Linked DNA regions of Homo sapiens. The protein of the gene in region 1 purifies or fractionates together with the protein of each later gene. This does not show direct contact. Each region holds a gene or a part of one and is shown on either strand. Other genes may lie near its edges.

Region 1 (8,527 bases):
AACACCTGGCACAGTGGATCCCTTTATAGTAGCAAACAGGTTCCTATAAAATAGCTATCTGGGCTCCCTACATAAATCCAAGAGTGCTGATTTTGAATATCAAAATGCAGTAAAGTTAAGTTTTCCTCATGTCTTTAACCAGATTTCTGTGCACAAACTTGCCTGTACAATGCTTTCTGCAATTGGGTAGGTAATCAAAACATGGGGGCAACAGTGAAGAATTTGTATCCATACAGCTTGTTCATATATTGACATCCCCTCAATACTGAGTGGAAGGATAACTAACTGATGGATCTACAGCTTCTAAACCCATAAAACGAGGATTTCACCAGTTACAGACATTCTGAGAGAAAAGTCCTGGGAAAGGATGAAAAGAGTGTGCGTTTACGTATGAGAAGTTAAAACTGTCAAAAGCACAACATCTGGTGGGCAGAGACATGACCTGAAACACACTGCTCATGACATGATAATAACTATGAGAAAAAAAAATCCCAATATGTCTGTTTATGTCTTATGGCACTTAGGATAAAGCAACACTAATAAGTACACAATGCTGTTAAATATGTAAAACAGAAAGACAAATGTGTGGTAGTTACTAAGGCACTGTTGAAATGCTTAGTTATGTCCCTCCCATAATCAGGAAGTTTTCCTGAATTTTCCACAGTACACCTCAAAAATGAGTTGAAGATAAATGGAAATAAGACAGTCCATTTTCCACTTAAGTGAACTTTCATTCTCCACTTGGTCATGTTTAGTGTCTACTCTACATTAGTTGTTTTATAGAATACATGACACATTCAAGGTCTGCTAGATGATAATAGTTATTATTCTTCCACCACCGTTTCAACATATCCACAGTGGTCAAAGTGTGTCCTATCATCTGCTTAATTCCATGAAAAAGAAATCCAGGGGCTGGGGTGTTTGAATAGAATAATATCTAAATACGTGTGCAAAGTGGCTACTGTTAAAATGATATTTTCAAAAGCATTTTCTGTATGAACTGGTCAAGCTCACTTTCCTTTTAAAATTCTTGTTATAGTCATTGAGTTAACCCAAACTCACTGTAAAATGTGTGAAAATAGCACCTCCTGAAAGTGTGTTCTCATATGCTTTGGAGCAATGGAGCGTGAATACTAAAGCAGCCTTTGCCAAACTCATGTTAACAGCTCAAGAACTAAACAGGAGTGAATTTTTGCAGTCCCATGACTTTGCAGAGCCAACCTAAGTATCATCCCAGGACTAGCTTTAATACATCACAGACATCCAAGAGAAGGCATAAAAGTCACAAATAAGTGACTCAAGCTAATAAATATTTCATAGATTTATTTTACATGGCAGTCTTTTCAAAATGAATTTTACTTCTTAACCAAAAAAATGAATTGGCTAAATAAAAGTGTGGACTTAGGATTTAAGCTTCTAGAATTAACACTATGAAATTTATAAAGATATTTATTTGACGAAGTGTTCTCCTGGATGCTCTTTCATGCACTTCTCATAAACCAATGCCCAAAGATTAACCAAGTCTAAAAGAAAATGCACAGACCACAGAAGAGTCATACAAAATTAAAGACATTTAAAGAATGAAAGCCAAAGAAAACAAACAGTACAAATGCACAATTTCCAGGACACTTTATTGTAATTTCCACTTTACATATTAATTTAATATTTTAGTCTAGGCAGAAATGTTTATACTTATACAACAGTAGTCCAATCCTCTAATCTCACAAAATGAAAAGGAGCAGTTTTAAAAGAACATCAATTCAGGTATTTATGATATGGGGGACAAGGGGCACTTGTCTTAGCTGGAAAAGGGGCTGATGCCTTTCAGTACGAGTTTCACTGAAATTTTTTCTGTATTATTTTTCTTGTTGATGCTAAGTACTCAAATAAAAGCAATTGCACTTTTTCTCATTCTGCCCTCTCTTGGTCTTTACATTCTGTCTAGCATTTAACGCAAAAAGTCAGTTTACATTCAGTTTACACATTAAAAAAAAAAAACCATATGCCCCACCTCCCACACATCCAAATGGACAGGGATTAGAATTAACCTGGCTTTTAGCTGTAACAGTGCTATTTTAAAATTTTTCAACCACACACTTGAAGGGTAAAATAATTTAAGATACAAAACCAAAGGAAACCATAACAATTCCTACACATTTACTATTTAACTGTTCTCAAATCATCAAGTATAACATGGATTTCTTAAAAAGTGAAATCGACACAAAAGCGAATGCACGCTTAATGTACAAACTGACCGTGGCTCTGTGGGGACAGTTCTCTTTGAATGAGCTATTATCCAGACGGTGGAATGGAAAAAAAAAAAAAAAAGGTCGCACTCTTCAAATGTGAGGAAGCCGGCAGTGCGCTCGCTACACGAGAAACACATTTTAATGGGTGTATTTGGATAAAAATAAGTAGTAAGGGAAAAATGTGTTTTAAGAAACCTCCCCCCTTCCCAGGGCACAAGAAAACCCAGAGGAGAAGATGGGTAACCTCACAAGCTCCAGAGCTAAGTTCCATCACTAACAGAAGTTGGATAGTTGCTATTTTTCATCCTGCAATGGGATAGTAGTTCTCCATGTGCAAGATACGCGGGGCGGGAATACTGGCGGGGCTTTCACTTGGGGTAATGGAAACCAAAGTGAGGAGAGGTCAACACCTTGAGTAACCCAGATCTCCAAAACCGGGGCAGGGTGAGGGGTGGTGGGGGTGGTGAAGGAGACAAGTAAAGGAGTCAAAACTCCTCGAAGTCATCGCAAAGAGAAAGCTAACACCTCTAGGAGCCACGGGGCCATTCCTTGCAGCAGCACCCTGCTCCAAGTGTGGGGTGCCTGCCTCGGAGGGCAAAAAGCGCAGGGTGCCCTTAGTTCAGTTGAGTAGCTCCGGGGACCCGGGCAGCGAGAGGGCAGGGGCATCCGCCGGCCGGGAGGCGGACTCGCACTTTGCCTCAACTCTGAGCCCCATCCCGAGCGCAAGGGAGAGGGCGGCGGAGGGCACGGTACTCACTAGGGCTCGTTGGTGAATCGGGGGGTCCGGGGCTGCTGGTATCCATACAGGTGACAGTAGAGCACATCGAAGCAAAAGCAGCACATCTCTGCTGACACCACCATCTTCCGGGAGCCCGGCGATGAGGACGAGGCGGCGGACGATGAGGAGGGTGAGGAAGAGGTGGCGGCGGCCGGGGTAGAAAGTAGGGTCCCCACTCCGCAGCTCGGAGGTGGCGACAGGGCGATCCCCCCGCCGCCGCCGCCGCAGCCCTGGGGGGGAGAGAGGGTACAGCCGCTGCCGCTACCTCCTCCGGTTAGACCTCCCAGCCCGTTGAGCCGCGTACCGGCGCCTCCTAGTCCCAGCTCCCCAGCTCGGCACTGGCTCTCTCCGCTGCAGTGGGAGGAGGAGGAGGCGCCACCACCGCCACCCGAGCCAGAGGGGGGCGAACTGGACAGTTTCTGCTTCTTCACCCCGCAGCAACCCGCCGCCATCTTGGAACAGTCTCCCCCACGCAGCGTTTCCGACCCATAAGTGAGGCGAGCTGGCGGCGGGGGCGAGCACGCTGCGGCTCAGGCCGCCGGGGGCGCGCCAGAGGCTGGCGGGGCGCGCGCGCGCCGCTCCCGGCCCCGTCTGCCTAGCCACGCGGCTGCCCCGCGCGCGCCCCCGCCTCGGTGCGCGCTCCTCGCTTTCGCGGCTGGGCGCCTCGCGCCTGTCCCGCCCGACTCGTGCCTCTTCTGAGCCGCAGCCCCAGCCCCAGCCCCAATCTCAATCTCTCCGGCCGGCAGAGGTTGGAAGACAGGAAGCCGATTAGAAAGGAAGGTGAAGGAAACAAGAGTCAGACAGCGGAAAGTGGGAGCAAAGGGAGAAGGTGGGCACGCCCGGGAAGGAAGGAGGGAAAGGGAAACTAGTGGGGGTAGGGGGGAAGAAAGGAGAAAGTCCGAAGTAAGCATCCAGGTCCCAAAGCACAGCTCAGTAACCCCCCGCCGCAAGCAGTATTAATGACACTTAAGCCCAGTTACGTGGAACCTGAGCCACCCGGCCTCAAATACACGGGTTTCTGAACTGTTGGAGTGTGAGCGAGCAGGTGCCCAGAGCTCCATACCTGAGACCGCCCCTGTAAAGTGTGTACAAAGCAATCCAGGAAATGGCCACGCTGCTGTCTTTTTAATTCCAGCCTAAGCACACACCAGGGTACTCTTTCCTTTCCTTATGGAGAAATATTCAAGTCCGACTGAATCTATGTATCTTGTACTTGTTCCCCCAACTTACCCTCCTTGCCCCGTTTAAACATTTAAAAGCCAAAAATAAAGTCCTAACTAATACTTCACTGGTTCAAAGATACTAATTGTGCTTTGGGACTTGCAGTGGTGGACTTTTCTGGTTTTGGTTTTTATTTCTTGGCTTGGGTACAAAGCAATTAGGAATATTATCTGTAGTGCTCAGATCTTAGAGATAAATAGGGAAGGTAATGTACTTAGTCACAAATTGAAAGATTTTGTTCAAGTATATAATTAGCTCTTAATATTCATTTTTAAAATTTCTCAATTAAATGCTTGGATGGATGAGGAGACATATGAGTCAGTCCCTTTCTGGGTGCCTAAGTGCAGCTTAATAATAAAAATAATGACAATAATCAAATGTTAAAATTCGTAGAAATGAACGTGATAGAAATAGAAAGCGTAAGTTATTTGCATTGTATCTACACCATGCTAAAACATCTAGATAAAGTCAGGTATCTGCATATTTAAAAACTGCAGATTGATTTTTGTCACCTTTTTTCTACATGCGTGGGATCTTGCAGATAGCTGGGGGCTGTTCATTCCACTCAGGGAATAAAAACAAAACAATTTATTCATTCAGTAATATTGAGCCTCTGCACCATACTATGTGCACAACACTATACTTCTGTTGAAATCCAGGGCGTACTCAGGAAGTATGCCTCCCGCTCTAAAAGAGTTTATGAATTAAGTCAGATACATGCACATAATCAGATAAATAGCTATTATAGTATGTATTGAACACTTTTTAGGTCTCCAATACCATACCTCGTCCTACCCCATAATCCTTCAGAATAAGATACTATCTCGTTTTATCTTCACAACAATGCTCTGAGGTTACTCATTAACAGATGAGGCTATTAAACCTCAGAAGTAATTTGCCCAACATCACACACCTAGAAAGTAACAGAGCTAGGATTGGAATGCTGGCATGTCTGATTCCAAAAACCATGCCATTATACTACATTGCCTCTCACTAACAATATATGATAACAAGGCTAAGGATGGACAAAAGATAGTGACATTACACTCCAGCAGGTGGAACCGAGGTTAAACAGAAATAAGAACTTAGTTTTTATGGAAAGATTGAGAGACACTGAAATATGTTACCAAGGAAAGATGAAAAATCTCCTTCCAAAAAGATTTTATGAGATAGATAGATGAAAATCTGGAATGGTTAGATGCAGCCTAAAGACAAAAGGGATAGTTTAATTGGTCGGTGATATGTAATTTCATCCTCTCAAACTTCATCACTGTTAGAATTAACCTTAAGTATGAAACAAATAACAATTCTTTGTCAATTACTAGTGGAGTAAAAAAATGCATTAATATTTTGTCTATGTTACAGAAGAGAAAGCAGATTGGTTTTTTTAAAAAGCACCACAACAACTGGTATGTTAGGGTGTTTTGTACGTTAGGGTGTTTTGTTTTGTACTTTGTCCTTAACTACCACAGGCTACCTTTTAATTTTTTTGAAACTAGACTGAACATAATATCAGACAATAGGTATCGATTTACTCCCCACCCCACTAAAGTGATCATTTCTAGAGTAAAAAACCAGAGCCATTTAATGACATCACAAAACAGTTTAGCACAGGAAGCAAAGTAGGATACCATGGATGGCTGCTTCTGCTAGGGGAATTTAGGAAAGCAGAATGTAATCTCCCAATTTAGAATTTGGCCAGTAGACAAGAGTCTAACGCCCCTACTCTTGTGAAAAATAGCAAGGAATCTTTAATAAGCACCAGTAGTCATGTCCTTAGTTCTGCATTTCATCTAAAAGACAAAGCACTATCATGGCTATCCTGCCAGGCTAAGGGACTGATGCAATGGGAAAACCCAAAGACAAGGACACCCCAGCTGAATTACAAAAATAGCTTTTCCCTAGAGGATTTTCAATTCCAATTCCAAACCTCACTAGCATAAAGAAAATAGACAAACACAAATGTGATAATTGCAGAAAATACATCATTACCTGACCGCTAGGGGTTATTATCTAAGTACTTTGTTGTATTGGCTGACTAAAAGGGGGAAAAACACTAACCTTTATCTTTGTGTTAACTTCTCCTGAGCCTGGCTCATCTCCCATACTAACCTTGAGCCTCAAGATGCTTTATAAATCGCTTGGCAAGTAGTGGTGATGGTGGTAATGTCTCCTTTAGGCATTTGAGGAAATGCCTCTCCTGGCCTTGTTTTCTTGTAAAGTCACCAGCATAAAAAGAAACATATTTCATTCAAACATAAACTAAATCCACAGAACAAATTCTGTGAAAAAAATTTTTTTACATCTATGCAAAGTGCACACTGGGTGGATAGAAAAACTGACCTTGCTCAGGATTCTCTTGACTTGAAGTATAAAGGTCAAAATATGATAGAGCACATGGTTTCTACCCACTGCTGATACTGGACTGCAGTGATAATACCCTCCAGAGGAAACTTTAAGTTGCCTTCCTCTCTTTGTAACTGACTGTCAATCTGGGAGCTGAAGATTCCACTTAAAAAAAAAAAATAGGCCATAGTCTCTTTGTCAACAAAGCACATTCAAATTGTGAGCATTTTTATTTCTGCAATTTAGAGGCAGCTCTAAATTGCTGTTAACTAACTCCTGTCAAAGGCTTTGTTTTACAACTGTGGAAAAAAATACTTGGACAGAGGTTATGCATATTATTTATTGTGCAGCAAAGCTAGTAATTGAATTAAACCCAATAGTTAGTTAATATATTATCATTGCCTCAATTTGTTCTCGTGTTTACAACATAGTTATTTTTTCATTTCAGAAAATAAGAATAATTATAATTCGATGAGGTGGTGAACTTAATGTTGCAAAATTATTTTCTTAGGTTTCTGGGGTTGTGGGTAAAAGGAGGAACATTCACATATTTCATTGAAAAAAAAACCTGCCATTTATGCCCAAACAAGTGTTATTTTTATCCTCTGTCATCAAACTTTCTCAACTGTCATCCTTGAACAACTGCAGAATGTAATATTCTTAGCTACCACTTTGATCTAACCTTGTACACGTATAACACATGGTTGTTGTGGTGGAGGTGGTAATCAGTTCCCTTTTATATTTGAATGAATACGTGAGTAAATACTGAAATTCTTTACCTACTTTTCAATTCAAATTCGTAAATCAGTTTTTGTTTTTCTGATTACAAAACAGATCCTTCCTTCCAAAATTCTTTCTTTATCTAATGAACACATTTATGAGCAAAAGCACCATGATCTACCTTGGATTGTTTTCTAGTTGTTTCATTTACATCTTCTATTGTCAACTTGAGTACAAACTAATTGAATGTTGTTTTGCTACCTATTTCCTTTAGAGAAAGTTCTATAAACTCCTTAATGAGATTTAGATATGCTAATATCTACTCTGAATGTGGAAGAATTAATAAAGCTAGCTAGTTGTAGATTGGAGAAAAAGGCTTTCTAGGAAGAAGATGATCAAACAGAGTGTTATTTGGGGCAGTTAGAGGAGTTGTGAACAATCAAAACATGAAGGTGTCTACTATAGTTTGGGAAAGTCTTTACTTGACTGTTTTTCTCTTTTCTCTCTTTTTAAAAGAAGAATTCATCTACTAGCTTCTGTACATATATTGGGGTTTGAAAATGTACATAATGAAACCCAATTGGCCTCACCTGAAAAGTTAATTATAAAAATATAGCTGTTTAACTAATCTCATTGTGTTCTGGGGCACCTATTCCAGTTGGTTGGAGGCACAGTTTTGGCAGGGTGAGGATTAACATTGTCAATTAAAATATAAAAGTCTGTTCTGAATTAAGTCTCTTTTGTACAAATAATCAATGTAAAGTACAAACTCACTCATGGCACCGAGGAGCAGAAATCTGATCCCTATAACCTCTGCTAGATCCCACTTGAAGTGTAGCTCATTTTGCCTCACTCTATTCACTGCTTAAATGTTCACAATTTATGGCTTATTCTCTCAGCATGAGTAATACACAATGATTGTGTCAGGAAGCTCAGTCGTCTCTCATTACTTACTATTCGGGATTCCTACCCTAGCTCCTAATAGTGCAGCTAACCCTCCAAACTTCAGCCAGATCCTCCATCTGGCCCCTGACGTTGGCTATCCACCCTACAGCCTTTTCTTTGGGGCTGTTCACCTTATGCCACAGCCACTGCCTGGTAAGTAGGCTGCTGCTTAATCCTCAGCTGACTTCTGCATCTTCCACAAGATTCCACAAGGGATTCTAGATTTCTTTCATGCCACTTGACGGTCTTCTAAAACCTCAAGCTGCTA
Region 2 (7,591 bases), on another chromosome or scaffold:
TAAGTTCACCATCTTATATGGGCACAGTTTGTGGTGCCCCAAAACAATTGCGGTAGTAAGATCAAAGATTATAGATGGTAATAACAGATACAATAGTAATGAAAAAGTTTGAAATCTTGTGAGAATCACCAAAATGTGAGCCAGAAACATGAAGTGAGCCTATGCTGTTGGGAAAATGGCACCAATAGACTTACTCAATACACGGTTGCCAGAAATCCTTAATTGTAAAAAATGCAGTATCTGCAAAGTGCAATAAAATGAGGTATGCCAGTATAAGCTTTGTACTTTTTACTTAGTTTTGGTAACAAGTGTCTAAGAATTGGTGCAGTAAATGTGGACTCTTAACTTTCATGTATTTTTTTGTCAGTCTGTAACTGATTTCAGTTTGAGTTATGTATTATTTTTATGGTATTTATTATGTGTCCTTCTTTATAGTTTCTTATCACCACAGGAGAAAATCTAGATTATCTTGATGGTGTCCATACGGTGTTTGGTGAGGTGACAGAAGGCATGGACATAATTAAGAAAATTAATGAGACCTTTGTTGACAAGGACTTTGTACCATATCAGGATATCAGGTATGGTTACAATTTGCTATCTGAATGTACTAGAATGTTTTAATATTGAGATGTTTAACACGTAGTGGTATGGATAGGAACGGTATGCATAGGACTGGTTTCTGGATAATTCTAATCCCAAAAGGTGAATTAATATAAGACTGTAAGAATCTTTATAATAAAAAGGACTTTTTGTATTTTTATACTTGTACTAATTATTTATAATTATGTTTGGAGGAATTATTTATTTATTTATTTTTTGAGACGGAGTCTCATGCTGTTGCCCAGGCTGGAGTGCAGTGGCGCGATCTTGGCTCACTGCAAGCTCTGTCTCCCGGGTTCACACCATTCTCCTGCCTTAGCCTCCCAAGTAGCTAGGACTACAGGCGCCCGCCACCACACCTGGCTAATTTTTTGTATTTTTAGTAGAGACGGGGTTTCACCATGTTAGCCAGGATGGTCACGATCTCCTGACCTCATGATCCACCCACCTCAGCCTCCTGAAGTGTTGGGATTACAGGAATGAGCCACTGCACCCAGCTGGAGGAATTGTTAATGCTTTAATTTAGTTTTTTAATTGAGAAGTAGGGCAAAAGTACTAAGATTTAGACAGTTATATTAGTTTACATCTTAAAGTAATGCAGGGTGATAAATATGGTATCACTCAATGCAAAACAGTAACACTCATTGTGAAAGTATATCTAGGTTAGTAATATCCATATGCAATATGGGTTTTTTTTGGCCTTAGAGATAATCAAGTAATTTTTTGTAATCTATTAAAATAAAATAGGATTCTGAAATAACTTCAATGTATAACATTTGATTTGGATTTATTTTGTAAGGATAAATCATACGGTGATTTTAGATGATCCATTTGATGACCCTCCTGATTTATTAATCCCTGATCGATCACCAGAACCTACAAGGGAACAATTAGATGTAAGTAAAGCCCTCTTATGATTAAATGTACATTCATATTAATGATTTGTATGGATTTATCTTTTTCATCTGTTAAAGTTAATTTTTTCCGAATTATTATCTTGCTTAATTATATTCAACAAGTTTGGAGTTCTTTTTCTTTTCCACAGAGGTACTCATTTTTCTAGCTGTCTTCTCATTTCTCTAATTTCCTTTCTTCAGTTTCTTTTCTACTGAGACAACCTCAGCTCTAGAAGCTTACATGAACACCTTGGGAAAGTGTTTTTCTTGTCATCAAATTAAACTGTTATCTTGTGAGGTAACTTTTCAACTGGGGACACTCTGGAGCCAGGCTAGAACCCAGAAATTTCTGTGAAACAGCGCAGACTGTTCCCCCACATATTTTAAGGTTTATGTGGCTTCCTGAAAGCTGAATTTGTCTTTATGGTTGGGATTGGTGCTTAATTGTCAGATCATTTCTCTTCATTCAGCAGTTAGAATTGGATAATAAATAGTGTCCATATAAATATTTATTTATTTTTTTGAGATGGAGTCTCACTTTGTTGCCTAGGCTGGAGTGCGTGGTGGGATCTCGGCTCATTGTGGCCTCTGCCTTCCTCATTCAAGCAATTCTCGTGCCTCAGCCTCTTGAGTTGCTGGGATTGTAGGTGCATGCCACCACGCCCAGCTAATTTTTGTATTTTTAGTAGAGACAGGGTTTCACTGTGTTGGCCAGGCTGGTCTCGAACTCCTGACCTCAAGTGATCCACCTGCGTGTTCTCCCAAAGTGCTGGGATTACAGGCACGAGCCACCATGCCTGGCCTATTTTGATTTTAACAGAAGCCCACTTTGGCTAATATTTTAGAATTAATATAAATCAATTCTTGGAGGTTTATAAGTTTGTCTCAGTTGCTGTCCAATTAATTATTAAAAATTTTTTTTTAGAGACAAGATCTCACTGTGTCACCCAGCTGGAGTGCAGTGGTGTGATTGTAGCTCACTGCAACCTTGATCAGTTACTGTTTTAGCATGTTTGATATAACTAAGAATAAAGTATGTCTTCTATGTTTCTCAGATTTTTTTATTCTTTAAATATATACATGAGTAACTTCTGTCTTAACAGAGTGGTCGAATAGGAGCAGATGAAGAAATTGATGATTTCAAAGGAAGATCAGCTGAGGAAGTAGAAGAAATAAAGGCAGAAAAAGAGGCTAAAACTCAGGCTATACTTTTGGAGATGGTAAGATAATTATCTTTGTTCAAATTGTTCTGTAATATATCTAATAATACTTACTGAGTGTTTATTTCTGGCTCTTCAGTAGTCTTAAAATGTTAAAAATTGAGTTATGATTTTTTTCTGATTTAAATTTGGTATGGCATAGTAATAAATTGGCTCTACTGTGAAAATAAATTTGACTCTACTGTCAATATAGTGCTAAGTGCCTTTTTAAACAGTGGGAAGTGGATCTCTAACTTATTAATTGAATTTCAGTTGTTTAATATTCATCTCATTCTTAAAGAGTGTTTAGCAGGCTGAATTTTATGTATATTAAAGAATAGTTCTTCACTGTACCACTCAAGTGTTAAGATTAAACAGAATGGTAGTTGTAGGGCAAAATAATGGGTGGAAACTGAGCACTCTAAAATATACTGCTTCTCTGTATTACTAACAACCTGAAGTCATTTGGGGAATAATAATTCAGTAGATGATTAATTGACCTACTTGGTATTATTTTCCATTTCTTATTTTTGTAGAATAGGCATACCTGTCATATCATAGATAATAAATATTGGAATGAATGGATAATAAAGTTACTATTTTATATAATAGAACTTTCAGATTTGTAGTCTGTTTTAAAGTTTATTTATTTATTATTTTATAGAGACAGGGTCTCACTCTGTTGTTCAGGCTGGAGTACAGTGGTGTATGATCATAGCTTGCTGCAGCTTCCAACTCCTCAGCTTAAGCAATGCCCTTGCCTCAGCCTCCTGAGTTGCTGAGACCACAGTCACACACCACAATGCCCTGCTAATTTTAAAATTTTTTTTGTAGAGACAGGATCTCCCTATGTTGGCCAGGCTTAAGTTTATATTACCATCAACTGTCTGAATGAACAAATAGTAAAGGCTGTATAGTTCAAGAAAGCTTTACTGAAATTAAAAAAATTAATTGAAAATACACATTTTAATGAGCACACTGTGTATCTCAGAGTATTGACTCTGAACACCCAACACCAAGACAAATTCTAAGAGAATTACTACACTTGAAAGATATGTTGAACAATTGGGCAGAAAGAATAAGTTACTTATAAGGGAATGAATTTAGATTGTTATCAGACTTTTCCACAGCAACACTTTGGAAGTTTATGCCAGAAGAAAATAGATTAACATACTTTTTAAAACTTTTTGTTTTCAGATAATTTCAAATTTATGGGAAAAAGTACATAGAACTTCTATATACCTTTTACCCACATTCACCAATTTTTAACATTTTGCTACATCTGTTTTATGATTCTCTCTTTTTCTCTCTCTCTGATTATACAAGCACATAAACACACATTTTTTTTCTCGACTATTTGACAGTAAGTTGCCTGTTATTTCCCTTTACCTCTTAATCAGTGTGTATTTCCTAAGAGCAGCAGTATTCAATGTGTATAACAATATGTACGTATTCACAGTGTAGTTACCAAAATCAGAAAATTTAGAAGTGACAGAAATTACAGTTTATAGGGCCGGGCACAGTGGCTCACGCCTGTAATCCCAGCACTTTGGGAGGCCGAGGCGGGTGGATCACGAGGTCAGGAGTTCGAGACCAGCCTGGCCAACATGGTGAAACTCCGTCTCTACTAAAAATACAAAAATTAGCTGGGTATAGAGGCATGCGGCTGTAATCCTAGATACTCAGGAGGCTGAGGCAGGAGAATCGCTTGAACCCAGCAGGCGAAAGTTGCTGTGAGCCGAGATCGCGCCATTGCACTCCGGCCTGGGCAACAGGGCGAGACTCCGTCTCAAAAAAAAGAAAAAAGAAATTACAGTTTATATTCCAATTTTGCCAGTTGTTCTAATAATATCTTTTATAATTGTTTCCTCCTCCAGACTAGAATCCAGCTCGTGACTTATCATCTGTTGCATTTATTTTGTAGAATATTTTCCTTTTTTTTTTTTTGAGACGGAGTTTCTGTTGCCCAGGTTGAAGTGCAATGGCATGATCTCGGCTCACTGCAACCTCCACCTCCCAGGTTCAAGCGATTCAGCTGCCTCAGCTTCCCAAATAGCTGGGATTATAGGTGCCTGCCACCCACGCCTGGCTAATTTTTTTTTTTTTTTTTTTTTTGAGACAGAATCTCGCTCTGTTATCAGGCTGGAGTGCAATGGCACGATCTTGGCTCACTGCAACCTCTGCCTCCCGGGTTCAAGCGATTCTTCTGCCTCAGGCTCCCGAGTAGCTGGGATTACAGGCGCCTGCCACCACATCCAGCTAATTTTTTGTAATTGTAGTAGAGACAGGGTTTCACTGTGTTGCCCAGGCTGGTCTCCAACTCCCGACCTCAGGCGATCCTCCTGCCTTGGCCTCCCAAAGTGCTGGGATTACAGGCATGAGCCACCGTGCCCGGCCAATAGAATATTTTTCAATTTAGGTTTATCTACTCTTTCCTCATGATTAGATTCAGGTTATGCACCCACAGCCGAAATAGTACGTGAGTGATGTTGTGTCCTCAGAGGTCACATCTGGAGGTGTACGATATTCATTGGAAGATGAGTAATTTTGGTCACTTGGTCATGGTAGTCCACTGCCTGGTGTCTCCAATAGACAATCTGTGGCTAGACACTTGGAGATCTTTCAAATGTCTTGTTCCTTGTCAAATTTCCCCCATAAATTTCTCAGCCATTCATGATTCCTGACTGCACCAGTTTTGACTCTGCTAAGTGCAAAGTGGTAATTATGCAAAGTGGTAATTTCCCACCCCCACCACTTTTTCCACAATTACCAACCTGCATTCTACTGTAAGGAAGAGCCCTCCCTTCTTTTTTTTTTTCCGAGATGGAGTCTCGCTCTGTCACCCAGGCTGGAGAGCAATGGCGCAATCTTGGCTCACTGCAACCTCTGCCTCCCAGGTTTAAGCGATTCTCCTGCCTCAGCCTCCTGGGTAGCAGGGATTATAGGTGCCCGCCACCACGCCCAGCTAATTTTTGTATTTTTAGTAGAGACAGGGTTTCACCATGTTGGTCAGGCTTGTCTCAAACTCCTGACCTGGTGATCTGCCTGCCTCGGCCTCCCAAAGTGCTGGGATTACAGGTGTGAGCCACTGTGCCCGCCTGAGCCCTCCCTTCTTAACTGCTTATCTATCCGTTCATTATCCGTGTCTCATGGATTCTTTTTTTGGCTTTGTTTTTAATAGACAATTTGTAGAGCAATTTTAGAATTACAGAAAAACTGAACATAAAGTACAGAGAGTTTCTAAGTACTCCCTCCCTCTTTCCCCCAGTCTTGCATTATTGTGACACATTTGTTAACAATTGATGAGCCAATATTGATACATTATTAATTAAAATCCATGATTTACGTTAGAATTCAAGCTTTGTGTTGTACATTCGGTGGAACTGACAAATGTACGATAGCATATATCTACCCTTACAGGATCATTCAAGGTAGTTTCACTGTCTAAAAAATCCCCTGGGCTCCACCTGTTCATCCCCACCCCCAACACCCACTTCTTGGCAACTACTGATGTTTTTACTGTCTATATAGTTTTGGCATTTTCAAAATGTCATATAGTTGGAATTATAGCGTATGTAGCCTTTTCAGACTGTCTTCTTTCACTTAGCAATATACATTTAAGGTTCCACTGTGCCTTTTTTCTTTCTTCCCTTTCCCTTTCTCCTTTCCCTTTTTCTTTTTCTTTCTTTTCTTTCCCTCCTTTTTTTTTTTTTTTTGAGACGGAGTCTCGCTCTTGTCGTCAGGCTAGAGTACAGTGGCATTATCTCGGCTCACTGCAACCTCTGCCTCCCAGGTTCAAGAGATTCTCCTGCCTCAGCCTCCTGAGTAGCTGGGACTACAGGCACGTGCCACCGCGCCCGGCTAATTATTTTGTATTTTTAGTAGAGACGAGGTTTCACCGTGTTAGCCAGGATGGTCTTGATCTCTTGACCTCGTGATCTGCGCGCCTCAGCCTCCCAAAGTGCTGGGATTACAGCATGAGTCACCCTGCCCGGCCCTTTTTTTAATTTTTTTTAATTTTTTTTTATTTGAGACAGGTTCTCGCTCTGTTGCATGGACAGTGGCACAATAATGGCTCACTGCACCCCGACCTCCAGGGCTCAAGTAATCCTCCTACCTCAGCCTCACAAGTAGCTGGGACCACAGGCGTGTGCCACCATGCCCGGCTAATTTTATTTTTTGTAGAGACAGAGTCTCACTATGTTGCCCGGCCTGGGATTTCATTTCTTTCTTTTTTTTGTTTTTTTTTTTTAGAGAAAGTCTCACTCTTTCACTCAGGCTGGAGTGCAGTGGTGCTGTCATAGCTCACTATAACCTTGAACTGAGGTTGAGCAGTCTTCCTGCCTCAGCCTCTTGAGTAGCTGGGACTATAGGCACACGCCACCACACCTTGGTAATTTTTAAATTTTTTTGTAGAGATGGAGTCTTACCCATGTTGCTCAGGCTGATCCCAAACTCCCAGGTTCAAGTGATCTTCCTGTCTTGGCCTCCCAAAGTGTTGGGATTACAGGCGTGAGCCACCATGCATGGCTGATAGCTCATTTCTTTTAATTGCTAAGTAATGTTTCATTGTATGGATGTATCACAGCTTGTATATTTTTTACCTGTTGAAAGATACCTTGGTTGCTTCCAAGTTTTGGCAGTTGTGATTAAAGCTGCTGTAAACATTTGCATGCAGATTTTTGTGTAGGCATAAAGTTTCTATGCATTTGGGTAAATACCTAGGAGTTCAGATGCTGGATTGAATGGTTTAGCTTTGTAAGAAACTGCCAAACTGTCTTCTAAAGTGGCTTTACATTTTACATTCCTACCAGCAATGAATGAGGGTTTCTTTTGCCTCACATCCTTGCCAGCATTTGCTGATGGTATTTTTTGGATTTTAGTCACTCTAAAAGG

The links.
Region 2: the proteins of AMMECR1 (region 1) and PPIL4 purify together in Homo sapiens (affinity purification with mass spectrometry; 2 studies listed by BioGRID and IntAct, with this or other methods). This does not show direct contact.

The regions. Positions count from the first base shown.
Region 1 is NC_000023.11:110,314,593-110,323,119, forward strand, and holds the start of AMMECR1 (nuclear protein AMMECR1), read right to left. Parts: upstream 3,494-8,527; 5' UTR 3,480-3,493; coding exon 3,007-3,479; intron 1-3,006.
Region 2 is NC_000006.12:149,528,583-149,536,173, reverse strand, and holds part of PPIL4 (peptidyl-prolyl cis-trans isomerase-like 4), read left to right. Parts: intron 1-435; coding exon 436-578; intron 579-1,399; coding exon 1,400-1,496; intron 1,497-2,599; coding exon 2,600-2,716; intron 2,717-7,591. UniProt on the Homo sapiens protein: PPIases accelerate the folding of proteins. It catalyzes the cis-trans isomerization of proline imidic peptide bonds in oligopeptides.